5 separate regions of the Homo sapiens genome follow, and all the other regions are linked to region 1. Evidence: fine-mapped QTL for protein levels in blood plasma. Region 1 holds a variant in brackets. A gene starts in each other region. All regions are shown on their forward strands. Region 1 holds the start of LOC124903964 (a long non-coding RNA gene). Region 2 holds the start of AMBP (alpha-1-microglobulin/bikunin precursor). Region 3 holds the start of CRNN (cornulin). Region 4 holds the start of IL27 (interleukin 27). Region 5 holds the start of OMD (osteomodulin).

What was found. PIP is the posterior inclusion probability: the model's chance that the variant is causal. Protein levels are from antibody-based Olink assays in UK Biobank. Linkage for the fine-mapping came from a reference panel and not from the study's own genotypes, which makes the PIPs less certain.
Region 2: it holds the start of AMBP, and the variant in region 1 is fine-mapped to the plasma level of the AMBP protein (UK Biobank, PIP above 0.99).
Region 3: CRNN starts here. The variant in region 1 is fine-mapped to the plasma level of the CRNN protein (UK Biobank, PIP above 0.99).
Region 4: IL27 starts here. The variant in region 1 is fine-mapped to the plasma level of the IL27 protein (UK Biobank, PIP above 0.99).
Region 5: it holds the start of OMD, and the variant in region 1 is fine-mapped to the plasma level of the OMD protein (UK Biobank, PIP above 0.99).

The regions. Positions count from the first base shown.
Region 1 is chr17:28,409,056-28,415,583 of GRCh38, forward strand. It overlaps LOC124903964 (a long non-coding RNA gene), which reads left to right and starts at 1,647. Exons shown (of 2, transcript XR_007065688.1): 1 at 1,647-2,256; 2 at 2,370-4,526. RefSeq lists an enhancer at 1-152. The variant A/G (reference allele first, on the strand shown) is at 3,054.
Region 2 is chr9:114,074,798-114,081,325 of GRCh38, forward strand. AMBP (alpha-1-microglobulin/bikunin precursor) reads right to left here and starts at 3,503. Exons shown (of 10, transcript NM_001633.4): 1 at 3,296-3,503; 2 at 1,801-1,943; 3 at 163-239. The coding sequence starts at 3,412. LOC107987120 (a long non-coding RNA gene) reads right to left here and starts at 6,272. Exons shown (of 3, transcript XR_001746905.1): 1 at 6,038-6,272; 2 at 5,901-5,943; 3 at 5,143-5,805.
Region 3 is chr1:152,411,604-152,418,131 of GRCh38, forward strand. It overlaps CRNN (cornulin), which reads right to left and starts at 2,660. Exons shown (of 3, transcript NM_016190.3): 1 at 2,611-2,660; 2 at 493-643. The coding sequence starts at 630.
Region 4 is chr16:28,503,225-28,507,224 of GRCh38, forward strand. It overlaps IL27 (interleukin 27), which reads right to left and starts at 3,610. Exons shown (of 5, transcript NM_145659.3): 1 at 3,557-3,610; 2 at 654-826; 3 at 471-569. The coding sequence starts at 3,587.
Region 5 is chr9:92,422,926-92,426,925 of GRCh38, forward strand. OMD (osteomodulin) reads right to left here and starts at 1,546. Exons shown (of 3, transcript NM_005014.3): 1 at 1,277-1,546. The region is part of intron 5 of CENPP (centromere protein P); the gene reads left to right.

The sequences.
Region 1 (6,528 bases):
ATGACAAACAAAGTCATTTGTTTGTCATTAAAAGAAAGAAAAATCTTTCTTTTAAAATATGGCCGGGCGCAGTGACTCATGCCTGTAATCCCAGTACTTTGGGAGGCCGAGGCGGGTGGATCACCTGAGGTCAGGAGTTCAAGACCAGCCTCAACATGGAGAAACCCCATCTCTACTAAAAATACAAAATTAGCCGGGCGTGGTGGTACATGCCTGTAATCCCAGCTACTCGGGAGGCTAAGGCAGGAGAATTGCTTGAACCCGGGAGGTGGAGGTTACGGTGAGCCGAGATCATGCCATTGCACTCCAGCTTGGGCAACAAGAGCGAAACTCCATCTCAAAAAAATAAAATAAAATAAAATAAAATATGACAAAGGGTTACTATTTTAACTATATGTGATAATAACCTGAAGATCCCTCCCTCAGTAAACAGATAAAAACCAAGCACTGAGAGGTTGTAACACAGAACATGCATGTGAGACACACAAATGAGCTCTTCTCCAGCTTCTGAATAGTGAGAAAAACACTGTGCCTTTGATCTTGTTCTTTGCAGCCAACACATTAGCAATGATTTTGTTTAAAATGAGAATGCTCAAAGCTGGTAAGGCTACAGTGAAACAAATACTGCTGAAGGAGTGTAAATACACCCTTTCAGGAAAAAATTTGGTAGCCTTTAATCAAGACCCTTGAAGCCTCTAATTCTACATGTAGGTCTCTATCTAAAGGAAATAGTCTCAAGTACAGAAAAAAGCCTTATGTGCTAAGATATTCTCCCATAACATTATATTGACAAGAGTAAAAAAAAAAAAAAAAAGATAAACAACCTATGTGTCCAACAGTAGCGAAATGGCTGAGTAAATTATAGTCTATCCACTCCATGAATATGAGTCATTAAAATGATATGTTCAAAGAGATTATAATAATATGGAAAACTGCTTACATAATAATTTGTATGTAGAAAAAACAGAGAGCTTGTTTATGTGGTATGGTCATAGGCATAGAAAAGAATTGCACTGAGTAAAGACTGGAAACCATGGCACCAATATATTAACAGAAGTCCTCTCTGCGTGGTAGTAGGGTTAGGTAAGATTCTCTTTTCTTCTATTTAAAATGTTTTCAACCCTTCTGATATAAACAGATATAAACATATGTTTTAATCATGGAAAACATAAACATTTTAAAAATCTGATGATACTCCTCTCCTTCAAATGTATTCTGGCTCAATTGCCAAATATCAGCTTCATGCTCCTTGATGTTCTGGAGACATCACTAGGAGCTGACTTTTATTGAAGCAGGCAGCACCATACTGAGGGCATTACATACATTATCTTACTGAATCCTGACTACAGCCTTATGAGATAGGTATTACAATTTTTTTTTCTTTGAGATGGAGTTTCACTCTTGTTGCCCAGTCTGGAGTGCAATGGCGTGATCTCGGCTCACTGCAATCTCTGCCTCCCAGGTTCAAGCGATTCTCCTGCCTTGGCTTCCCAAGTAGCTGGGATTACAGGCATGTGCCGGGACACCTGGCTAATTTTGTATTTTTAGTAGAGACAGGGTTTCACCATGTTGGTCACGCTGGTGTCAAACTGCTGACCTCAAGTGATCCGCCCACCTCGGCCTCCCAAAGTGCTGGGATTACAGGTGTGAGCTACCGCGCCCGGCCAGGTATTATTATTTTTACAGATGATGTAACTACAGCATAGAGGGATGAAGGGAAATGGTTTTTCTCACTCTGGGTACAGGTTTTCTTTTCCTTACACCTACCTGTTCTAGTGCTTTCTGTTATTCTAAGCCTTAGTATATGTTAGTCTCTTTGCCAGTAATACCCTTCCTACTTTGCTTGGCCTATTCAGCTCCTTTTCATCCTTCAAAACCCACCTCTGTGTCTCACTTCTAGGCGGAATTAGTCATTGGCTAATATGTACTTCCACAATACTGGGTTCATACATTTAACCCTGGTTTTAAACTTAACCTGGTTATAAATATGTGTTCCCAGGTTTGTCTCCTCTTAACCCCTACCTATGTCCTGCCTCCAGATTTGAGGGCAGAGAAAATTTTTTTCACCTCTGTATTCCCTATCCCTGGGCTTGACATGCAATAAGATAAAATGTTAAATAACTTTGATGACATGCATCAACTCCAGTCAATTGATTGAATCTGTCTGGATTGCTACATTGAGATGGGCTATTTTTCCAGCTTTGTGGGAAGGAGTCCTGCGATTCATTCTTGATGTCTGCCATGGGCTTGGGAATGGTAAGTACTGGCACTAAAAACTGTGTTGTCCAACCCCAGGATATGTACTCAGTAAATTTTGAGAGGCTTTGGGGAAGTGCCTGGAAGTCATAAGGGTTTCTCTTTGCTTCCAGTTGGATAATGCCTACGAGAGGCTGTCTATACAACCACTGTGACAGAGAAGATTGCAACAGGGATTCTTCATCCAAACAGCAGTCTTATCACAGCCTCCACCCAAAACCTATGCCTCCTTTTTGCAAGAGGCCACTTACAGCTTCCAAAGAGCTCTTCATGATTTTAGACACTGAGAGGAAGGAAGGAGACAGCATGAGAGAAAAGCTATTTTCCTTTTTGAGATGTTGCTTCTCACATAGCAACCCTAAAAGTCAAAGCAGCATCCTTGTCACAACTAAGGGTGTTCCCAGCACTGAGTAGAAGCTGCAACTATGCCCCCATCGCTGTGAGACTTTGACCAAGTCCCTTTCTGGCTTCAATTTTCTCATCAATGAAATAATTTCTGGGCCTCTATTTCCTTGTCTGTGAAAAATGAAGTAATAATATCTACCTATGGGGTGGATGTTTGGGTCAAATGAGAAAATATGTATGGCTGTGAACTTTATGTGGCTGTGTCCAGGTGCCAGAGATGATGATTGCTGTTGAACTGGGCTTGAAGGTAGGAGGGATTTCACCAGAAAGAAGTGAGGCTGTCCCAAGTGAGAGGAAAAGTTGGGCCTTACAGAGGGATGCTACCCAGAATTCAGAGAAGTACAGGGCTAGAGGTGCATTAAGTGCATAAAGATGTCATTACCGCATGGGGG[A/G]GATTTCACAAAACACTTTCTGTCTTTGGCCTCCTGCCCTTGGTTTCATTTTAAACACTTTCCTTTTGCTAGAGCCTTTGCATCTATCCATCTATTCATTTAGCATCTACCGCCTGCCAGGCCCACTGCTAGGTGCTGAGGTTACAGACAAGAATTTACATAATTCCTTCCTTCTATGAGTCCTCAGGCTAGTGGGAAGCAGCACAACAAATCTCAAATAACAATAACAAAAGCATGCCGTAGGATGAATAATTTCAGAGAGAAGGTGTGTGTGTGTCATCAAGAGAAAGTCAAAGGATTCACAGAGGAGCTGAATTTTGAAGCATGAGATGGTAAAAAGGAGTCTCCAGGACAACAGAGAGAAGACATGATAAAGGGCTTTCTGTACAGTGGGAAAGGCAAGTTCTGAGAGACAGCAAGGACACCTATTTTGTTGGGGGTACTGAAGTCATCATAGGACACCCTGAAGGAAAATGAGCCAAGGCCTCATGTTCACAAAGCGTTTCAATTTTAGACATTCAGTCCCAGAGACTCACTCCCTAAATTGGTCTTTTAGTTGGAGTGTTTAGTCCAGTTACATTTAATGTAATTACTGATGTAGTTGTGGTTAAGTCTACCATCTTGCTAAATCTTTCCTTTAATTTAAAAATCTTTTTTTTGAGATAGTGTCTCACTATGTTTCCCAGGGTGGTCTTGACCTCCTGGCCTCAAGGAATCATCCCACCTCAGCCTCTCAAAGTGCTAGGATTATAGGCATGAGCCACAACACCCAGCCTTGCCAAATCTTTTCTTCTTTTCCTACCTGTTTTGTTTCTTTACTTCTCCTCTCTTATCTTTTGGGTGAATTATATTATTTCATTTCTGCCTTCTTCCCTTATGTCAAGGATTATAACCCCTTAAGTCCTGCCTGTATTAACTCCCCACCAATGCTTTCAAAGAAAGAAGAGCATACTTTACACAGTTTTGGCCGGAGGTGGTGGTTCACACCTGTAATTCCAGCAATTTGGGAGGCGGAGGCAGGCAGATCACTTGAGGCCAGGAGTTTGAGACCAGCCTGGCCAATATGGTGAAACATTGTCTGTACTAAAAATACAAAAATTAACCAGGCTTGGTGGCACGTGCCTGTAGACCCAGCTATTTGGGAGGCTGAGGCAGGAGAATTGCTTGAACCCAGGAGGCAGACATTGCAGTGAGCCGAGATCATGCCACTGCACTCCAATCTGGGCAACAGAGAGAGACTCTGTCTCAAAAAAAAAAAGTCACACAGTTTTAACTGGTGTCCCAATTTCTATAGTTCTCTATGAATATATTTACTCATGGGGACCCATGGGGCAAGAAAATATATGTGTGTATGTATAAATATATATGTATATATTAATTCTGTAATTATGCTGTGACTAATACAGCTAAGTAGCATTATATTGTGTGTTACAACGTGTTAATTTATTAAACATAAATATTTAAAATATGCTATGAAAGCCTGTCTTGGCAAGTCTTTATTTTTAGTTTCTCTGGATTCTCAAATAAGAAAAATGGCCCAGGTCTCTTGATCTCTGGGAGACCCTGCAGGAGCGCCTCCTGGCTGACACAGTTTGGGGGTGACATAGAGGGTAATGTCTAGGGATTCCATTTGGTCTCAGGAAGGATATCTTCTGGTCAGGCCCTCCCTCCAGTCCCAGGCTCAGAAGCCCAGCTGTGAAGCCCTGGAGCACCTGACTTTTTTTTAGTGCACCAGAGAACTAAACTCAAGCAAGACGGGGGTGCAAATCAGAAGGCTCTTTTCTAACACGGGGTTTCTATTCGTAGGCTGTAATGGCCACATCACTTATCTAGGGCTGCCTATTCCCAGTGCCAGGGAAATAGAAGATGGAAGCAGGGATCGGGAAGGTGCTAGGTGAGCCGCAAATCAGAGCCAAGGGACGGAGGATGATTTGCAGTAGGGAGAGCAGGCACAAGGAAAGCCACCGCTGAGAACTGCCCTCTAGGGACTGAAGTGTTGTGGCACTTCCTTGGTGGTGTTCCTGTACCATACTTTCCTATGCTGACCATGTACATACATTCTTTTTGTAGGTCTGTCAATAGTGCTGATCAGTAATAGTTAGTTTTTAGTTAGAGAACTGCTGTGTGCCAGCCACTTTACATATATGATCTCTTATCCTCATTATAATTCAGTGAGGTAAGTATTGTGATCCCTGCTTTATAGATGAGGAATTAGGTTATGTGGCTTGCCCAAAGACACACAGCTAAAGGGTAACAGAGCTGATATTCAGCCCATGTCTGTCTGACTCCAAAGCCTCCACACTTTGTACTCTCAATAGTTCACAGACATGTGACCCAGGGGTTGGATATGGCCCACAGATGTGTTTTGTTTGATTCACACTTGTTTTCAAAAAAATAATCGGCTCACATCGTGTATTTTAAATTTTGAATTAGTTGCCAACATCTAACAATTGGAAGATTCATATGAAAAATCCAGGTTTTTGCATTCCCTTGAAAATTCAGAAATGATGGCAACATTCACATCAGGCAATACCTTGCTGAAGTTGGGAAGGGACTGTCCCCTCCCTTTAGCTGTGGGATATGTTCTCCACTTCACCACTCCCCCACTACCCACCTCCACTCATAGAGGATGCCTGGTCCTATAGGTTTTCGAGCTTGCAGCCCCTTTCCTGTGCTGTGCTGCTGCCTGGGAAGAGGATCCCAGGTTTCTTAAAGGGCGTGGACCAAGGCTTTCTGAACATAAAGCGATGGAATCACTGTGACACAACACCAAGCTACTATTCCAAGCATCTGAAAAGCATTCTGTTTTCTCCCATTTTAGGCCGATTTAATTAGCGATAAGGAACACCTTAGTGGCCAGCCCACTACAATCTGGTACTGCTATACTTTATAGCCATGCGGAGACAGTGTGAGGCTGAAGAAGTCAAGAAGTCGGCAGGGGCCAGGTGATGCCTCTAAGGAATTCAGTTTGTTGGGTGTTTTTTGTTTTTGTTTTGGTTTTGTTTTTGTTTTTGTTTTGAGATGGAGTCTCTCTCTTTCGCCCAGGCTGGAGTGCAGTGGTGTGATCTCAGCTCACTGCAACGTCTGCCTCCCAGATTCAAGCGATTTTCCTGCCTCAGCCTCCCAAGTAGCTGGGACTATGGGCGCACACCACCACACCCAGCTAATTTTTGTATTTTTAGTAAAGGCAGGGTTTCACCATGTTGGCCAGGCTGGTCTCGAACTCCTGACCTCAAGTGATCCACCCGCCTTGGCCTCCCAAAGTGCCAGGATTACAGGTGTGAGCCACCGCGCCTCACCTTCAGGAGTTCAATTTGGATCTTACTGAGATTGAGGTGCCTGTGTGATGTCCTGGTGGAGGGGGCTCCAAAGGGCAGCTCTACCCAGAGCTAACAAGGATGGGCAGCGCTAGGAGCCATCGGCATATGTGTGATAGAGCCTGGGAGTAGCAGACCACCCTGAGAGGATATGACAA
Region 2 (6,528 bases), not on the chromosome of region 1:
GGAGGAGAAGGAGGAGGAGGAAGAGGAGGAGTTGTTTGGGGGAAGGCTAGATGACATCTCAGCTAAATGGGAGGAAAGGTTACAGAGGCAGAGGGAGCTGAGGACATCAAGGTATTTTCAAGCAAAGGAGAGAATGCATGTGTCTCTTTCCACTCCACTTACTGGATTTGTGATAGAGAAACTTCCCATCAGTATCTGTTTTCTCATAAGCTCCAGACGTCTCCTCACAGACACCTTTCCTAGAAATGAACAAATCAAAAGGAAGGTCACTCCTGGTAGAGATCATGGTCCTGACACTCAACCCTCCTGCAGGGCTCTTTCCAAATGCCTTGGTTTTGGGGTTTTTTTGTTTGTGTGTTTTTGTTTGCTTTTTAATTCGGAAATGAACATTTCCAAATGTCTTGTTTAATCCTCACACTAGCCCTGAGAGACCCCCATTTTCCATATGATGGAGGGACAAAGAAGAAGAGACAAATCCATGCCATCCTCCTGGCAAAGCCAGCACTAATGCCGCCTTCCTTAATCAAATCTACACATTATACTGAGGCAGGAGGAGCTGGAGTGATGAATTCCTACAGTCATCCATGTATTGTTCTGTGTCTCTCTTGCCCCAGTTTTCTCATTTATAAAATGGGGATCATGATAGTTTCTACCTCACATGGTTAGTGTGAGGGTCAACTGACACATATGTAAAGAACTTGGAGGAAGCACTATATACGAATTAGCTATTATTGTTACAATGAGCACTATTTATCCAATGGATATTTATTGGGCAGCACCTATGTGGCAAGCCCTGTGCTACATGGCAGGGATACATGAGAGAGCAAGACAGACCCCATTCCCTGGGGTTCCTGGAGCTTGCAATTGCGTGGGTCAGGCAGGCAGGTGAGAGGCAGATGCAATCAGTGTGAGAAGTACCACATGGGGGTAAGTGTGAGGTCCTCTTCGGGCACAAAGAAGGGCATGTAACCTGAACCTGGGTGTCTGGGAGGGCTTCCTGGAGGAGGTGACATGAAACCTGAGTTCTGAAGAATCCACAGGAACTAATTAGCCCAGGGAAATGAGGAGAGGTGCTCCCAGTAAAAGGGACATCAGGTGCAAGGACCTGGAGGCGTGAGAGTTCCAGAACTGAAAGCAGGTTCACGTGAGTAGGACTCAGAGTACATAGCAGAGTGTGTGGCAGGAGTTCTGGGTGCTGGGAGGGTCCTGGAAAGCCACATCAAGAGTTTGAATCTTACTCCCAGGGCATTGGGGAGTCATGGAAGGGTCTCGAGCAGATGTGAGTTTTCAAAAGGTCTTTCTGGTTACTGGGTGAAGAGGGGATGGGGTGGAAGGGTGGAGGTCAGAGGTGAGGAAAGAGTAGAGAGGTTGTGGCAGACAACCAGGAAAGAAAGGGAGGTGGCTTGGACCAGGATGGTGGCAGTGGAGAGGGGAGAAGTGAACAGGTTGGGGGGGATTTAGGAGGAGAATGGGCAGGACTTGATGATGGGTGACAGGGGAGAGAGGAGCCCAGTTCCCAGGTTGGGTCCCTGGGGGGCTGAAGTACCCACACTGGGCTAAGGAATGCCCAAGGGGGAGGAGCAGTTTGCAGAACAGGCACAGTGCTGGGACACTGCCCTCGAGGAATAGATAGGACACCTGAAAAGGGCCGTCCTGGTGGAGGAGCGTAGAGGGATCTGGGGTTCAGCGGGAAGGTCCTGACTGGAAGCAGAGATCTGCAACTTCCCAGGATGGACGGGGCTGGGAAGGTTGTGGGTCTCTGGGTCTCTCTCAGCTTTCCAGCCCCACCCTAGTGCTCACCGCCAACGAGTGCTGGTCATGCTGATCTCCGCCTCTGTAGCGCCCTCTCCCAGCACCAGCGTGCTCACTGTCATCCTGTCCATGATCTTCTTCAGCCAGGGGCAGGTGGAACCGATGGCCAGGTTGTACCACTTCCCATAGATCTAGGAGGCAGGTGAGCTCTGGGGGTCTGCATCAGTCTCAGACCTCAAAGCAGACCTGGCTGACATCTGCTCCCCACCCTCCACCTCCTCCTCTTCCTCCTCCTTCTCCTCAAAATGACTTATCCTTTTAAGGGATAATGTCTTACAACTAATCAGAGGCCACACACCTTCAAGGGAGGCCAGATCCCTAAGAGTGGCGTTTCAGGCATCACAGCGAACCCAGGAAGCAGGTGTGCGGCTGGGGTCCCAACCTGCCCTGCAGAAGGGCTAACTCTCTCAAGATGTGGGATCTGTCCATAGCTCCATCAACCACTGCTCCCCAAGAGCTGGAGTCCTGTCTTTTACTCCTCCAATGATGGGGTGCTCCCCACCTTGCAAGGCAGCCCACAGCCCCATGTTAGGAATTATTTCAAAAGTATAATGAACATGATGGGGTCATTCAGGATAGGCCTGCTTCCTCTTCCTCCTGAAAGTGCACGGGACAGCTGAAGGAGCCCTCAGGCTCCTACGGAACAGGCCAATGTGCCCCACACCCTTTGCGTCCCAGACTGCCACAGGGACCTGCTCCTCATTGCCCCTCTGCCACGACCTTTCCTTGTCCCTAAAAGTAAACAAAACCCACATGACACCACAGCTAGAAGGTTCTGAGACCCTTCATACAGACATGGAGACAGCCCCAGGTGGGCAAGGGTATTCTCAAAGCCACCCCGGGATTTAGGGCAGAGTGGGGGCTGGAAGGCAGCTCTGGCACTCCACACTCACAGGAGAGTGTCCTGCCCCAGTCCAGGTCTCTCCTTGTGCCCAAGCCTCTGAATGTCTCCCAACCCTAATCTCTGTCCTGCTTCACCTCTTCCCATAAGCCCCACATGCCCAACCCAAAAGCTGCTGGCCACATGCCCACGCTGTGCCACCCCAGGTGTCTGTCCACAGTCAGGCCAGGATGTGGGCAGGGGACACAGGAAGAGCTAAGGGAAAGATGCCACAGAGAGAGGGGAGTCATTAGAGAAGGAAGGGCTGGGAGGTCTGGGCAAAGCTAGGTGTCTGCACGGGGGCTGCAGGGCAGTGGCAGGCAGGACAAAGCCTTCTCTGGAGCAGGTTCCCATTAACACAAGGGTTCCCCTTGGAGCCCACGAGGACAGTGCAGAAGGTGAGGATGTTTGACTCATAGAATGTCAGCCAAGAGACCCACGGAATGGCAGGGGATAGAGCTGTACCTTCAAAGGATCCCATAATCCCAGATGATCTGAGTGGAAGCCTGAGACCCCGAGACAGGCCGCACTTGCCCAGCAGGGCCCATCTGCCTGGACTCCCCATCACCACATCCACCCTACCACAGAGAGCGGCAGCCTTACCCGAGAGATATTGAAGTTTTCCTGCACTTGGATGTTGTCGGGCGGCGTTGGCACAGGGCCAGCGCTCACCGCCAGGCAGGCGCTCAGCAGCAAGAGCAGGGCCCCGAGGCTCCTCATGGCTATGGGCTCCTCTGCCTTGGTATATCCCACAGGCTCGGTCTAGCAACAGAAGGGCCACCGCCTCCCTGCAACAGGGCAGCTGTGAACTGAGGCTGGGGAAGGGGCCTGTGGCTTGTAGTTGACCTCAGTGTTTGCCCTGCTCAGCTGGGGCCAATTACAGCCCCAAGGACAGCTCCAATCGATCCCTGTAGCCTGGCTGGGGTCAGCAGTACCAAGAGGCCGGGATGGCTGCTTCAGAAGAGGCATTGGCCAAGCACAATAGGGCCCTGGAGCACCAGGATTGGGCTCCGCCCCCCAAAAGTCCCCCACAGAGGGCATGCGAGGATGGGGAGCGACCTGGCCTTTCTGCTGAGTCATGCCATCTGGACCTCACAGCTCTGTGAGCCAGCAGGTCAAGCCTGATTGGGCCCATTTCTCACAGGAAAAAACTGAGGCCCAAGGAGAGGAAGTGACTTGCCAGAGACCTCAGGGAAGTCTATGGGCAGAGCCAAGACCAGAACCCAGGTATCCTGTCTCCAGAGTTCCTTCTCCAGCCCCCAGGCTTGCCCTAGCCTTTGCAAATAATAGAGACATTAACAATGATGACTGTTACGAGCTTCCGTTCACTGAGCACCTGCTATGTGCTGGCTGTGTACCAGGCACTTTACACGTGCCACAGGTGTCCAGTAAATCCCCACAACAAGCTTACGAAGTAGGTGCTATTTGTCCCCTTTACAGGCAGAGGAGTTGAGTCTCCAAGAAGTGAAGTGACTTGCCCAGAATCCCTCAGCCGGGAGTGGAGTAGCTGGGAAAGGCGTGGTAGAGACCATGGACGTGGGAGCCAGGCAGCCTACAGTGGCACTCACTGCTGTGTGACCTTGGGCAAGTCACTTTACCTTTCAGTGCCTTGGTTTCCTCATCTGTAAATGGGGATAATAATAGTTCCTAGCTCCTAGCATTGTTGAGTGAGCACCTGCAATGCGCTAGGACAGTACCCAGCATAGAGTAAGAGCTGAGTGTTTGTGGTGGGTTGAACAGTGCCCCCTCCAGAATCCATGTGCACCCCGAACCGCAGAATGAACCTGATTTGCAGATGTGATTAGTTAGATGAGGTTGAACTGGATGACAGGGGTTTTAAATCCAATGACCGGTATCTTTATAAGAGAATGGTGAGGGAGACTCAGACACAGGGACACAGAGAGAAGCACGGGGAAGATGTGGCGTGACGCCGAAGGCAGAGATGGGAGGGATGCAGTGACACGTCAAAAATCACCAAGGATTGATGGCAGCCACCAAAAGCTAGCAAAAGGCAAGGAAGGACTTTTCCCCAGAATCTTCAAAGGGAACATGGCTCTGCTGAAAATTTGGTCTCAGGTGTCTGACCTCCAGTGCTGAGAGAAGACACATTTCCTAGCAGCCCTAGGAAACTAATACAGTAGTTATTAAACTTAAGGTTTTATTTATTTATTTATTATTTTGAGACGGAGTTTCACTCTTGTCGCCCAGGCTGGAGTGCAGTGGTGCGATCTCGGCTCACTGCAACCTCCACATTCTGGGCTGAAGTGATTCTTGTGCCTCAGCCTCCCGAGTAGCTGAGATTACAGGTGCCCACCACCATGCCTGGCTAATTTTTGTATTTTTAGTAGAGACAGCGTTTCACCATATTGGCCAGACTGGTCTCTAACTCCTGACCTCAGGTGATCCTCTCACCTCAGCCTCCCAAAGTGCTGGGATTACAGGCGTAAGCCACTGCGCTCAGCCTAAATTTAAGATTTTAAATGAGAATTTTTTAAAACCCAGGTCCGTTGTCTGTGAGCTCACACTCTTGCCAGCAATACCAAAGGCCTCTCTATGAATTTCCCTTCTCCAGTGGTTAAATCTACTGTCCTTACTTCCTCCCTGCTCTTGGCATGGAACATTCCATACTCTCAGCCACCTCTCTGTTAGAGCTGGGAATGACCCCTTCGGGCAGGCAGTCCCAAGATTAAGACCCCTGCTTATGTGAGAATCAAAGGATTCCCCCATGTAGTCAGTGCAGAAACAAATGGTGTATCATGTCCCTTCTGTAAGATTCAGTCAGTACATCCCTCTTTCACTGGTATCCAGAACAAGTGTGCTTCTATTCATAAATGTGTTTCCTTTGCTCCGTCACCCTAACCTTGGCCAGTGATTATATTCCCTTCTTGCTTTGGCTGCTAGGAAGCTCAAAGCCATGATGTAAGTTTAAGCACAGTTACTGTCTTGGTTTAGCTTTCTGGGACAGTTATCTTCGTGTTCCTTGTGTTCACAAAGTTTCTCAATCTTTGATGTTTTAGTTAATGATGGTAATGAGGAGGTGGTAGCCCCCAACTTCTCCTTGTTCTGCATGATATTGGAGGTGGCTTTCCCTCGCTAAAGACCACTTTCCGTATCTGTGAACGGAAGAAAACAGTTCTTGTTCTGTCTGTCAAGAGGCCAAGAGAGACAATGTGTGAGGAAGTGAACTGTAAACTGTCCACTGCCTTACCTGTGTGGTGGCTCAGGGGTGTCTGCCATTGGAGGAGGCAGGCCTGGTATAAGAATAAATAAATAACAATGAATCATTAATAGGAATAAAATCATCCTACTAAGCCCGCTTACAGTGCACCAAGATGGCTCGCTGACCTTCATGTTGGGCCTGCGTGACTACAGTTATCAACCCCATGGTCCAGATGGGAAGCCTGAGACGCGCAGGGGTGGAGAAGCCCCAGTCCTAGCCTCTCTTGGACAGGGCTGTTCATTCAGTTGCACAGCCTCTCCTGGGGGTGGGGAGAGGCCCAGAGGATAAGTCCAGGATGTTGATTTCTTCTCCTGCCTCCAGGAATGTTTGTGCTCCTGAGATTATTAACCAGAGCAAACAGAGAGAGTAAATGCTGCCAAGGGCCACTTGGACTTTTGACTGCTTTTTAAAAATTAACCTGGGGACACAAGTTGCAAGACCAACAGTGGTCAGACAGCTGCTGCCCCCTCCTCCCCTTCTGGCTGCTGGGGTGGGAGGATGGAGGCTCTGGGGTCCCTGCCCTCCTAGGGGGCCCAGGGGTCTAAGAGTCCATGGGAATTGCTAGGTTCTGAAACCATTTGGTTGTGGGGGAGGGTCTTGCCCCTCACAGGAGGCC
Region 3 (6,528 bases), not on the chromosome of region 1:
TATTAACAACCTGCTCTTCAAAATTTCATTTCTGATGTGATCAGTCTGCTAATATTTTTGAGTAACTGCTTCGTGCAAGCCCAGAGCTATGCTTCTAATGAATGTCTATGAATGGATGATTACATTTCAGATAGACGTGGGAAATATTTACTGTATCAAATTTAAGAGGCGGCAGAAAGCAGCAATTATTTTCATTTTGAAATATTCCAAGGCTCTGCTCCTGTCTGAGTTGTCCTTTTAGAGCCCTTTTACCTTGTCTTTAAGTTAGAATTAATTAAAACCAAGGTTTTAATCTAAAGAGCCAGGACTTGCCAACTCCCATGACCATCTCTGGTTCTTTCACCTTTTTTTCTGCCTGCACAGCTGCCATCTGTCCCGGCAGGCCTGGGTTTAGCTGCTGCCTCCTCAAATTCCCCAGGCAAGGCCTCTGCAGGCAAACCAGGTTTCACTCTCCTGCTATGTCCCCTCTCCACCCGGCTCAGCACACCGTACCACAATCACATCGGCAAACTCTTGCTCCAAGAGTCTTTTCAGCTCCCCTCGGGTGAGCGCTGTGCAGTTGCCCTCCGTCCTTGCATAGCGCCTGAAGGCCTCGATGATCCCATTAATGTTTTGCAGTAACTGAGGCATCTTTGAAGTCAACCTGGAAAAGATGAAAAGTTCCCTTGGAGGCTCCATAATCAACCTCAGCTATTTCCTTTATAGCACGTCTGCTGCTAGGTCTTTCCTTGCACGTTCAGCTCTGTTTTTAGTTTTCCTTTGTCCTTTCCTACATAATGCATCTTATGTATGGGAAGGAGGAGCACACAGGATGGAGGCAGGTTCCTGAGTCAGGATTAAATGCTGGCCCCACCACTTAAGTATGGTGTGAGCTGGGACAAGTTGCTTTGCCTCTCCATGCCTCAGTTTACTACTCATTGTAATTGAAGGTGATATTAGTACTCTGTGGGATTATTGTGAAGATTTAAAGACATAATTCATAAAAAGCACTTGGCAGATGCCTGGCTTATATTAAGTGCTCCTTATTAAATATAATTATTATGCTATTATATACATATACACACATATAATTTTTGTACACCTATATAATCACTTTCCTGTACATCATCTCTTCTAATCCTTATTATTTCCACTTTTTTTTATAGGTGAGGAAACAGGCTCAGAGAAGTTAGGCCACACAATTTTTAAGGAGCCAAGAAATCCTAGGATCCATTTTTCCTTAACCCAAATGCAATGGGCTTTCTAGAATGTACCCTGTGGACAGGATTTATTTATTTATCACAAGGGTGTTAGGGTCCCATCGGGAACACCAAAAGGAAGTAAATACATCTGTGAGTCAACCCCTGTCTTGGATGGGAGCCAAGCAGAAATTCCAGGGACACAGCCCTCCCTTCTTGTTTTTTTTGGGAAAGTGGGAAGAAACTGGGCTACCACCTGCTGGGAATGCTCAGGAGGGGGGAACCTTCTTTGGGTGGGAGGCCTTCCAGTTCTGAGGGTCCAAGTTTCTCTGCATGTCGCCTCTGTCCACAGCCCTGAGACTTATCAGAGAAGTCAGCTTGCCCAACAGGCACGTGGCTCCATCAGGCCCAGATTTCTGGTGACCTATGAGTTGGTTCCTAATCAAAGGGAAAGCTTTTCTTTTTCATTAGCCAGAAATCTAGAGGTAGGTTGAGGTGAGGCCTGGGTTTGGTTGCATGAGCAAAAGGAAAAGAGACTTGAAGATTCATTAAGCAGAAGCCTTGGAGAGACCCAAAGGAGGAGATGGTATCAAAGATGACAAGTCTCAAATGCAAGGGGAGATGGAGCCTGTAGCAGCTGGAAAGCCAGAGAGAGGATGGGACGAGGCAGATATAGGTAGGAGAAGAAAGAGAAAAAAGGAAGGAAGGAGACTTGAGTTCTAGAAAAAGCAGATTAGTGTGGCCATGAGGACTCAGTAAGTCATAGCAAAAGGTGGGCTGTTCAGGAGAAACCCTTTCTAGGACCTGGTAACCAACAATTTCAGGCAAACTTTTCATCAAGGTAAAAAACTGGGGATGTTTTCCTCAACATAGATGAAAAATATCTTTCTTTTTTTTTAAAACCATGTAGCAGACTTTAACCACTGACCTTTAGATAATAAAATAATAAGATGACCTTTTAGTTACATTTTAGATTCCTTAGAAAAATCTACACATATTTTGCCTAAATATCACCCTGGTGTAGGAGAGGGGAATCATGTAAACCCCTTCATCCATGACACAGTTTGATCTTATTGTCTAGGTTGGCATAAGTAAACTGATTCTGATCCCATAGACTCTCAGCACTGCAAAGAAGCTTCCAGAGCCTTAGAAAAAAGAAACCTTTGCTGATCCAGGAAGGCACATGGGTGGCCCCATAGCCGCTGCCCACACAGTTTCCCAGTGAGAGGAGCTGCTCCCAGGCCAGCCTCAGGGAGGAGGAGAAAGCCTGATTGCTTCAGGAGAGCATGTTTCCCAACGGTAGCGTTGGTTTGCCCAGTGCTCACAGCTAGCTCTGAAGGATGCATAGTCCATACCTGACTGCCCCAGTTTTATGAGCTCAGATCACCAAGACACTGAGAATGAGAAAGAGGTTTCTTATGAGGGGACTTACCTAATGCCCAGGTGGGATGAAACAAGTGGCTGTTAAGTGGTGTGAGGAGTACCAGGTCAGTGTGATGAGAACCTTTTATAGGGGTTTTAACCAAGGCTCTTGTTTTAGACAGGATATCCTGCCCTATGGGAAGGCTTGATTCATCCAAGATCCAGCCCAGCCCAGCCACACCTCCTCTTGTCTCTGTTTTACCTGCTGATGTGTGACTGCCTTGGTCTAATTAACAGGCCCCTCCTACCACATTTGGTACCTTCTGTAGCTGAGTCCTCTTGACAGGGAAGCTTCTTTCCATTGTGATGGGCTCAGCAGTGCTTGGTACAGGCTGGGGTCCTGGTGAACATTCTTTGTCTCTATGAGCCTACAAAGTTATGGGACTCTTTCCTTTTTTTTTTTTTTTTTTTTTTGAGATGGAGTCCTGCTCTGTCGCCCAGGCTGGAGTGCAGTGGTGCGATCTTGGCTCACTGCAACCTCCGCCTCCTGGGTTCAAGCAATTCCCTGCCTCAGACTCCTGAGTAGCTGGGATTACAGGTGCCTGCCACCATGCCCAGTTAATTTTTGTATTTTTAGTAGAGACAGGGTTTCACCATGTTGAACAGGCTGATCTTGAACTCCTGACCTCATGATTCACCTGCCTCTGCCTCCCAAAGTGCTGGGATTATAGGTGTGAGCCACCGTGCCTGGCCACTGTTTCCTTTTTTAATATAAATGTTCAAGAATATATCTATTGAGGTTAACTTTTACAAAGTAGCCACTCTGAGAGGGCACACATGTTTTTGTGGTGATGTTACTTAGAACTGTTATTACTTAGAACATTTTTTGAATTCTTGTTTTGTAAGTGCCTTTCACACCTAGTGTATGAGACACAAGAAAGCCAGTTTCATCTCTTTAAAGTTGGTCTCATTTTTAATTAAAACAAAAAAAGTTAATACCTTCCCCACCCCATGCTATGGGTAGGTAGCATTTTGTAGCTGATGAGAAAAAAGGCTTACCATGATCATGTGGTAACTCCTCATTGCAAGGACAGGAAACTCAACTGGTGGCTAATCAGCAAATATTTATGGAAAGCTTGCTCCATTTCAGGCAGAGGGCTAAGGCCCTAGGAATACAGTGTTGAATACGATGGCAGCAGTTTCAACTCTCATGAAGTCTATAGCCTGGCCATCCCAGGGGTAAGTCCCCAAGAGGTTAATGATAATGGTATTGCCATTTCATTTCATTTGATTTTATTCCATTTTCATTACCATCTCATCTTATTTGATCTCCCTAGCAATCCTCTGAGGTGGTATGGCTAAGCCCAATTCATAAATGAGAACACTGAGAAATCCTCAGAGAAGTAGCCACTCTGTGAAGCGGAGACGGTGCTGGACTAGAGCCCCTCAGACTCCAGGCCTGTGTTCTCTCTGTTGCACCATGCTGCCATTTATTCTTCTCTCATTGAGTTTTGGCACCTTATGAACATCACACTTATCCTCAATGCATGAAGAACCATTCCTGAGGAGGAAGTTTTCTGAGCTCAGAAGCCAAGTCCCAAAGAGTGCTCTTGAGTGGCACTTTGCAGATAATATATACTGTGTAGCTTCCTGAGTGACTCTGGAAGGGAAAGCCATCTTTACCATCCTCACTTATAGATCAGCATGCAACAGACAGGAAAGGGAACAACAGGATAGGAAGGCATGGTAAGGGCCTTGGTTGAAGAGACTGGTGTATTGAGGGCAGCCCTGTAGCAACAGCACAGCCTCCAGCACTTCCCCTCAGGGCACAGAGCACTGGGGAGTTCCAGACTGCAGGAGGGCAGGATGCAGGCTTTGTGTTTGGAGAGATCTGTCTACATGGGGACAGGTTGGCTCCAGTCCTGGGGTGAAGGTGGGGTAGGCATACCAGCCAGGGAAAAGCAGAGTAGGGGCTTCAACCTTTGGGAGCAAGAGGGGGCTGAGGTTGCTTCTGCCTGATCAGAGTTAGAAGAAGGCCAGTATGAGAGGGTGAAGTTGGAGAACAAGAGGGAGAGCCGATTAGACCTTCTTCTGTGGTGGTGTTTGAAGCTTTTTCTGATGGGGCTTAGAACTTCCAGAAAGGTTTGGGAACTGAGGGTAAGTTAGGGAAGTAACAAGCCAGAGGCTGTATCTAGAAGATGAATATTTGGTAGGTATTATTAACCCAATTTATAGATGAAGAAACCAAGGCACAGAGAGTAAGTAAGTAAACTTAAGTAAACTACCTAAGGTCACATAGCTAGGAAGTTAGACCTGAATTTGAACTTAGGTCTGCCTGCCTCCAAAGCCTAATAGGTCTTTATGTGTGCCTGGGGCAGGACTGAGCTGTGAGGAGCTGGGGCACCATAGAAGTAGAGGTTAAAGAACTGTATGTGTGTGCTGGGCCAGTGGAGGTGGGTTGAAGTGTGCAGGTGGGGCTGGGGGAGATGAGTTGGCAGAGATTGGGACTGAGCCTGTAATTGACTGTGTAAGTTTGTTAGTTTATAAAGTTGGTGAGGAGATGTTATAAGTTAGTGTGCAAGTTGTCAGAATCAAAATGGAGTCACTTGTCTTCAAAAAAATCCTTGACAAATATAGAGCTAAGGAAGGCTGCGAAGAGAGAGTTCTCATGCTTGTACACCTGATAACACAACTATCACAAAAGACTGCAAAAACCACAACCTTACACAAAGGCCATAATAGCCTTACACAACAAACACTTCTGTGAGGACATCAGTCCAGCAGCTGCCTGTCCAACTTCATATTAGCATCACCATTGTTATTGATCTTTGTAGCCAAGAATACACATTTCAATAAAATTATGTAATTTTCATTGTTTTTCCTGTAAGAACTTTTGTTTTCCTTTACCTCCTGAATATGCACGTAGTTTACTATGGCACATGTATTCCCATTGCAATGCCCTATTCTCAAATAGGTAACTTTTTTTTTAAGAGAGATTCACTGTGGTTATTATTTAAGTTGACATTAGTGAGTCTACTTAGCAGTTACATTTTACGGGTATGCTGGAGGGCAGTGAGACCAGGTGCTGGATCAGCAACTCAGCAATGAAAACCCAGTTTTGCACTTTGACTCCTTCTTATACACTTACTCAACAATGTATTGCTGACCTCTACTTGATTTATTTCTACAAGATACAAGCAGTATTTGCCACACTTAGTGGGCTATAAATTAAGATTGCTTTCCAGAAAATTAGCCCAATTGGGCAAACAGGCTTTACACACCAAAAATAGTTATTTTAAAATGAAAAGTAGAAATTTTTAGAATGCTAACTAAAAAATATTGTCAAATATCACAAGGTCTGGGGTAAAGAATCACTGCTCAGGAATATGAGAGATCAGGGTCTATGTCAGCAACACCCCCTACCTGTGCTTGTTTTGGTTTGCTAGTTTTATTTTACTTTATTTTATTTGCTAAGTGCCTACTATGTACAGACACTGTGCTAAAAACTTACACATATCATTTTATTTAACCCTCACAACAACCCTATGGTAGCAAAGATATTATCCCAATTTCATAGATGAAGAAATTATCATTAACTAACTTAATTTTCCAAAGACAGAAAATAAATGGTAAAGGCAGGATTTGAACCCAAACCTGTTCAACTTCAGAGCCCAGCATCTTAACCTCTCTGCTTTGCATCTTGGCTGAAGTTTCTTATCTGAAGTCTGGAAAATTCCCTTTGACTTAAACCCAGCTCAACATGGTATGTTCCAGCTTAAACACTACGTGAACTAGCTATGGGACCACAGAGAGTAACAAACAGGGCAAGTTCTCAAATCCAGAGGCCCTGTGAGATGCCGGGGACAAAGCCCAAGGAAATAATCTCTCTTCATACTGACAGTTCTCCTTCTTCCCCCTTCCCCTTTGTTCAGTGGCAAAATCCAGAATGTTTGGCAAAAGCCTCTATAAGTTCAGCCAGGGGGAACAG
Region 4 (4,000 bases), not on the chromosome of region 1:
TGGGATTACAGGCATGAGCCACCACGCCTGGCAGTTTATTTATTTTTCTGAGACAGGGTTTCCCTCTGTTCTCCATCCTGGAGTCCAGGATCATAACTCACTGCAGCCTCCAACTCCTGAGCTCAAGCAATCCTCCCATGTCAGCCTCCTGAGTAGCTGGGACCAAAGGTGTACACCACCATGCCTGGCTAACTCTTAAATTTTTTTTTGTAGAGACAAAGTTTCACTATGTTGCCCAGACTGGTCTTGAACTCCTGGCCTCAAGCAGTCCTTCCACCTGGGCCTCCCAAAGTGCTGGGTTTATAGGTGTAAGTCACCATGCCTGTCTTTCATCTCTATGTCCAATGACATATTCAGCCTTATCCAGGTTCTATCCCCAATGCATCTCCAGCTCAATCTCCAGCCTCATCTTGCACCCTGGCCCCAGCCTATCACAAGCTTCCCGCCCCACTCCACCAGCCCTCACTCACAGAGAGGCGGCGCCAGGCCTGGAAGGTCAGGGAAACATCAGGGAGCTGCTCTCCCAGGGGCAGGAGGTACAGGTTCACTCCTGGCAGGTGAGATTCCGCCTGGGGGGCAAGGTCTGTTAGTGGGGGCCAGAAGGGATTGGGGGTCTGCCCATCTCCAGCGCCAGCTGCATTAGGGGGACTTACAAAGCGGTGGGCCTGGCCCCGAACCTCGGAGAGCAGCTTCCTGGCGAGATGCAGGCTGACTGTGAACTCCCTCCGCAGCTCCTGCAGGCTCAGCTGGGGCCTCCCTGGGGGCCTTGGGAATCCCCAGACACCAGCTTGAACCAGGAGCAAGGGAAGCAGCAACAGGCTGAGCCCTGGAGAGATGGGAAGAGGGTGGCAAGACAGGGAGAGAGCTTGAGAAGGAAGGGAACATGCCTTTTCTGAGCCTGTGCTAGCTGTGAGCACGGTGCAGGCACTTTGACCAGCATCATTCCTCTGCCTCCTCAAAACCACAATGGAGGCTGGGTGCGGTGACTCACACCTGTAATCCCAACAATTTAGGAGACCGAGGCGGGCGGATCACCTGAGGCCAGGAGTTCAAGACCAGCCTGGCCAACATGGCGAAACCCTGTCTCTACTAAAAATACAAAAATTAGTTGGGCGTGGTGGTGCATGCCTGTAATCCCAGCTACTCAGGAGGTTGAGGCAGGAGAATCGCTTGAACCTGGGAGGCAGAGGCTGCAGTGAGCTAACACCACTGTGCTCCAGCCTGGGCGACAGAGCCAGACTCTGTCTCAAAAAAACAAAACAAAACAAAACAAAACAAAACCCCACGATGCAGCCAGCACGGCCCCCATATGGCATCTCCGCATGGTGTGCCCACTTTTGCAAAAAGACCAGAAGCCTGATCCTTTTTTTTTTTTTTTGAAACAGAGTTCTGTTCTATCACCCAGCCTGGAGTGTAGTGGTGTGATCACAGCTCACTGTAGCCTTGAACTCCTAGGCTCAAGTGATCCTCTCGCCTCAGCCTCCCAAGTAGCTGGGATCACAGGGACACACCACTGTGCCTAACTGTTTCTATTTTTTTGTAGAGACAGGGTCTCACTATGTTGCCCAGGCTGGTCTTGAACTCCTGGCCTCAAGAGATCTTCCCGCCTCAGCCTCCCAAATTGCTGGGATCACAGGCATGAGCCACTGTGCCGGGACAGAGACTGGATTTTGACCCCCATAAACTCCCTTGGCCAAATGCCTTTTTCAGTGAGCAACCTGCACAACCACGTGTGGCAGCCTCAGTGCTATTGTTCTCCCCAATTTGCAGGTGAGGCTCAGTGAGGTTGACTTGCCCAAGGTCAAATAGCCAGAAGGTGGGAAGCCAGGACTGGATTCCAGGTTTTTCCAAATGCAGAGCCCATGGGTTTTCCCCAGAGAATGCAGAGGGAGGCAGCCATCTGCCCCAGGAGTGGGCACACCATGTTCTGGCAAGGATTCTTTGGGCTCAGCCAAGCGGCTCTGATGGCTTGAACTGGCCATGAGGTCCCCAGGGATGGGCTGGCAATGCCAGAGGCTCTATTCCAGGGAGTCAAAAGGACAGGTTTGTCCAGTTTCCACCACGGCAGGTGGATCCTAGCAGGGTAACCTGCCTGGGGCGAATCCACAGTATGGGAGCTTTTTTTTTTTTAAGACAGATTCTCACTCTGTCACCCAGGCTGCAGTGCAGTGGCGCGATCTCGACTCACTGCAACCTTCACCTCCCAGGTTAAAGCAATTCTCCTGCCTCAGCCTCCTGAGTAGCCACCACGCCTGGCTAATTTTTATTATATTTAGTAGAGAGGGGTTTTGCCGTGTTGGCCAGGCTGGTCTCCAACTCCTGACCTCAGGTGATCCGCCTGCCTTGGCCTCCCAAAGTGCTGGGATTACAGACATCAGCCACTGCGCCCAGCCCAGAATGGCTGAATTCCGAGTGTGCTTCCTGACCTGTGTTTTCCTGGAAAGAGGGGCAGCGGATGGGCGCTCTAGGAAGAGGGCAGCATTCATCAATTTCCCCCTCAGGGAGAGGAAATCTAGCAAGCACAAGAGTTACACAATTCTCCTCGAAACACAAACCAAAACTGGCCCGAAGTCCATCCTGCTCTCCCTTCTCTCCCTGCCTCTTCCCTGTCCTCTCTCAATCTCTAACCCCTGGGCTCTGCTCTTCGAAATGTCCCCTGATAAAGGTGAAGGGGAGCTTCTAGGGACATCTACCTCCCTCGTGGGCTTGCAGATGTGGTGGGCGATGCCTAACGTAAGATCTCTGGCATTCAGACTCCCTGGTTTTGGGGCCACTCGGACCCTCTGACATCCTGGAGACTTAAGGCAGAGTGGGGTTCTTCCTAGCTCAATGTTGGGGACAGGGTGGGTGCCCCCAGGCCCTGGTGGATCAAGCCCAACCGTAAGTGAGCTGTGCCATCTCCAACCTGACCTCTGGAGACCCCAGACCCCCTCCTTACCCTCTGCAGCTGATCCTGGGTCATTGGCTCTGGCCTTTGAAGGCTCTGTCTCCATCCTCCAGCCTTTGGTCCCTACCTGCCCTACGTGGCATGTTACCTTCTCCACTGCCTACTGCTCTGGTTCTAGCCCCTGAGTTCTGCAGCCACCAGCCGCAGATTGGACCTCTTTCCAACATCAAACTAAAGACCTTTGACCCAGTGAGGCTGCTGACATCTTGGTCCCAGTGCTCCACTTGTGCCAGCACCTCGTTCTGCTCTTCCTCCAGCCGGCCCCATTCTCAGTCTTAGCCAAGCTGTTTGGCTTCTGCTTATTCACTCCAAACTCTTCATTTATCTGCCTAGACCTGGTCCTTGTCAAATTGCTGGTCCAACCCTCCCCATTCCCACTAGCCAAGGCCTCCTTCTCATCCTCTGCCCAGCCCTGGGTCAGACCACCACCCCACTGCCCCAGGCCCCCACCCAGTCATGCCAGCCTCCCTTCCCATGCAGCAGCCAGCCGAATCCTCAGTCTTGGCCAAGTTGCTGCTCTCAGCTCTCGACCCCCCATCTGCACCAGCCAAGCTCGTCCATTCTCTGCCCAAACTCAACCAAGCCCCCCACCCCTGGCTTCAAACTCACGCCAGCCAAGGTCGCCTGCCGTCTGGCCCATGGCGGGGCCCAGCCTCTTTGGTCAGCCATCTCCTGGGTAGGGGGGGTCTTATACTGGGGGCTGTGCCCGGTTTCACTTTCCGTCCTGCTTGTACTTTCAGCTTTGTGTTCACTCATTCTTCCCTCTCGCCACCCCTTGCTAAAATGGGGAAATGTAATTTCCCTTCCCGGAGGGGGTGGGAGGTATGATGGGGGGTGACGGGAAGCTGGGGTTTCGGGACATCCAAGCTCCAGACTCACTGCTAAGCTCCCACGTCCAGCCCTGTCCTCAATGTCCCATGCTTGGGTGAGCCATCCAGCCCTATTCACTGGTTGATCCCAGAGTCCCAAACCCCCTCCTGATTCTCGGCTCTGCCACCATCATCCTAGGGTCTACTGTCCTTCCAAAGATGGATAGCCAGGTAAGGGGATTGC
Region 5 (4,000 bases), not on the chromosome of region 1:
TGTATAATTCATTGTTGATCATCTCATTTCCTAATATCTTTTAACAGAATCTAATACAATGCAGTGTTATAAGTGCTCAAAGGTGTGTTGAATGAATAAGTTAATAAGTTATAGGTTAAGGCTTGCTAGCAAATGCTTCTCTCTACTAATGTTGATTATTCCTAGGCATTTATTTCACTATGATAATTTCTTCAAATGAACATATTCATGAGAGCTTGACTGTTCCTTTTTCTATTGAATATTTCTTCATCACAATATACTGTATTCCTCACTTTCCTAGTACATCGTGTAGCAGGAAAAGAACAAATGTGAAAAAGAATGTTTGGAGCAAAGTAATATATATATATTACCAGTTTTCAATGTGAATTTTTCATATTATAGCAATAAAACCATCTGTGTCATAATATTTCTCTTACTTGGAGAAAAGCACTCGTGTTCATCAAGAAAAGTTTCAATTGAAATTACTAATGAGGTATAATTTACTTGTTCAGGAAAAGTTTAAAGTAAAATCCTCAACATTTTATTATGTTAAAGACATAATTGTTTTTATTTGTATGACATAGAAACTAGCATATAAGAAAGCAAATATTAGCATATAATTTAGATTTTTCCAAAAAAGTTCTAAATTTTAATTTTATAAAATTTTTTTGCTATTAAAAATACAATTACCTCAATTATTTTTAGCCATAATACATTTAAATCGTAATTAACTAAAACCCAAAGTAACTAGATCCTTCAATAGACTAGATAGAGCATCTGTATTTTCCCTTTGAGAAAGAAGTAAATGAAAAGAAAAACATTCTATATCAGGGATTTAGTCAGTAGAGAAATTTGGAGAAAATCTTGAGTGAAATTTGTACAAATGCCCATCAACCCCCCAACCGGAATCACTAGCATTGCTCAGCTGTATGCCTCAAAGGCATTAGCTGGTTCTTTGTTACTTATAATTCATAGAAAAAAAGAGACCTAAGGAAGAGAAAGAGATTGATTCCTTTAACCTGAGAATCTTTCCTTTCATTCAAAGTAAAAAAAAATCTAAACAAAGATTTTTTATTGGGTAAATCTTAAATGAGAAAGTTAAACTCATTATACTACTTTATTTGAACATTTTGCCTAATCAAAAGTTTAACATAACTTTTTTACCAGATTTTGCTTCCAAAAATTGTGCTTTTGTAATAGATGCAGTCTATTTTAATATTAAAAAATCCAATATACTTTTAAATTTTAACAGTAGGAATACATTCTTAAAAAATTGAAAATTATTTTATTATCATACCTGTTCAATTTGCTTTAGTTTTCAGGGGTTGATGAATTTGTAAATCCTTTAAATGAATCAGAAATTCCTAAATTCTTTAACTGAGTCTCTTAAAAATCCACAGTAACTCTGTGTCCAGACAGGGCTGTCTCTTGAATTACTGTAGCAATTTAAGCAAATACAATCTTCTTGGAAAACACTCGGGTTGAATTAAAATTATGTATTTCTTTTCATTACATGAAACTTTGTGGATTCAAATTAAGATGCTTGTGTTCTTGGTCAGATTTATGTGGCTTACTTCTTTCTTTTCCCCTTAATTTTGGTTTGAGGTGTGGCAAGAATTTCCTCTAATGTGAAAGGCAAACAAAACTAAATGAAACAGCATGTACTGATTACTGTTTTTATTTTCATTTTCATGCCAAAGAATTCTTCAAATTAAGGCCCACTGTGACAGGGAACTCCAGAGTCTCAGCAACTTAAGGTGGAACTCAAAATTTCTTTTTTAATTTTTTGAGATGGAGTCTTGCTTTGCTGCCCAGGCCAGAGTATAGTGGTGCAACCTCGGCTCACCACAACCTCCACCTCCCGGGTTCAAGCAATTCTCCTGTCTCAGCCTCCCAAGTAGCTGGGATTACAGGCATGAGCCACCATGCCTGGCTAATTTCTTGTATTTTTAGTAGAGATGGGGTTTCACCATGTTGGCCAGGCTGGTCTTGAACTCCTGACCTCAGGTGATCCTCCCGCCTCCACCTCCCAAATTGCTGGGATTACAGGCATGAGCCACCACGCCTGGCCTGGAACTCAAAATTTCTTGAGTCCCTTGGTTATTCAACACCTAGGTTCATATCAGTACTTCTATTTGTTAAAACAAGAAATCAGGATTAGAAACATAACATTTCGCATTGTTTATTTTTAAAATGCACTTGATTGTCATTGCTTACACAGATTAACTATACGACTTTTCTATACAAAGGCTTACATCTTCATTTTTATCATCATTTTTATCAGCTATCTCATTTCTCCTCTTTTTGGCAGATGTACCCACTAGAATGACTTCTAATATCCTTTCAGATAAAATTAGTCAGTTGGTTGCACTCCAAAGGTGTATCTTCAATTTGCCTGTTTTTACTATTGCACAAAATAATTCTGTAGTATTGAATAAAATGGGATGAAAAGCTTATGTTACTCAATAGCTATTGCCTTTATTTTGTAGATTTAGAAAATTTCTTCATTTCATAGAGCTATCTCTCCTGAATAGTAACAGTTAACTGTTTTTAATGTTTAATTTTTACACTGTTCTCATATTCTAAACAGAGAGTTGACTTGTGTCTTTTGGCAGTAGATTCGGAGTTCATTTTGGGGGGGAATTCTTTTAAGCTTTTACAAACTAATAAGATAAAGTGAATCCTGGAGTTCATTTTGTTTCCTCAAAAAAGTGTTTTCCATTAGCTTTTTACAAAGAACTCACAAGATTTATTTTGTTAAACTTTGCATTAAGAAAAGTATACAGTGTTTCAAGTGATGCTTTGGCAGTTGTAAAAATCTAGTCTATTATTTGAGACATTGGTATGAAAAACGTGGCAGACCACACTTTAGCCAAGATTCCATCTTGTTACTGATCTTTTCCATATGTTTTCTGTTAGTGTCTTTGTTCTTAAAACTCAGGCTTTCACTAAGGAAGAGAGAGCAAATCTGTGTACTTTTTCAAAAAATTGTTTTATAGGCCTTCACAGTCCTTTTGGAAGATTAACTGAAAATCAACAGCCTAATGTTTATATAACTTCTCATTAACTCTGTGATTTGGATTTATGATATTGATTATGTTATTCATGTTTTTAACAAGTGTGAAAGAAAAATCAGTAGATAACTAGAGCAGACAGAATAAAAATGTCTAGAAAATTTAAACTGATTGGCAGTGTCTATCTAGGAGGTTTAAGGTGGCAAGGGATGGGGATGGGGGGAGGTGGTGGTAGTTAGAGTCAGGCCTTAAAGGAAAAAATAGGGGATGTGAGTTTGTAATAGTTCACTGTTTTAGTTAAGTGGTTATAATTGTAGCAATTGGGGAGAAAAGGAGTTGAATTGTTGAAAAGTGTAAATTATATGCTATGATTATACTTTGATTGAAATAGATTCAGTATCTCAAAGCTGAGTGACACAGGACTGGCTAGGAAAGGCCCTCCTGAGACCTGCTTAATTAACATAATAAGCATTACAATTTTCTGCTCATTTGTTCCACTTTATTCACTGGACACCTACTTTGTGCAGATTTTAGATGCTTGGGACTCAGCAGTGAAAGTCTCTGTTATAGAGAAGGAAAACAGAAAATAAACATAAATAAGCATAAAATGCAGAATATAAACAATGTAGAGTGCGATGGAAGAGAATAATGCAAGGTAAAGGGATAAAAATGAATGAGGCATGGGGGTACGGGTCAACAGTTCAGGCACCGCTGTATGTGGGGACTGGAATGGAACAATTAAGTTACTGTATGGCAGATGGTGAGAGCCAGGTGTCTCACCGTTGGAGTGGAAGTTACAAATAAATAAGCGAGGTGAGGTGGTGACAGTGATTCATGTGGTAATAGATTAGAGTTGAAGACATCAGTATGAACTCATATTTAGCTTAATATAGATACAGCTGGTTAAAAGGGAAATGTAATTATGTTATATACACATAGTACACACATAGACCTCCTTGCTCTGTTGGCTGAGAGATCCTACAAGCAGGAGCACTTTAAGCAGCAAC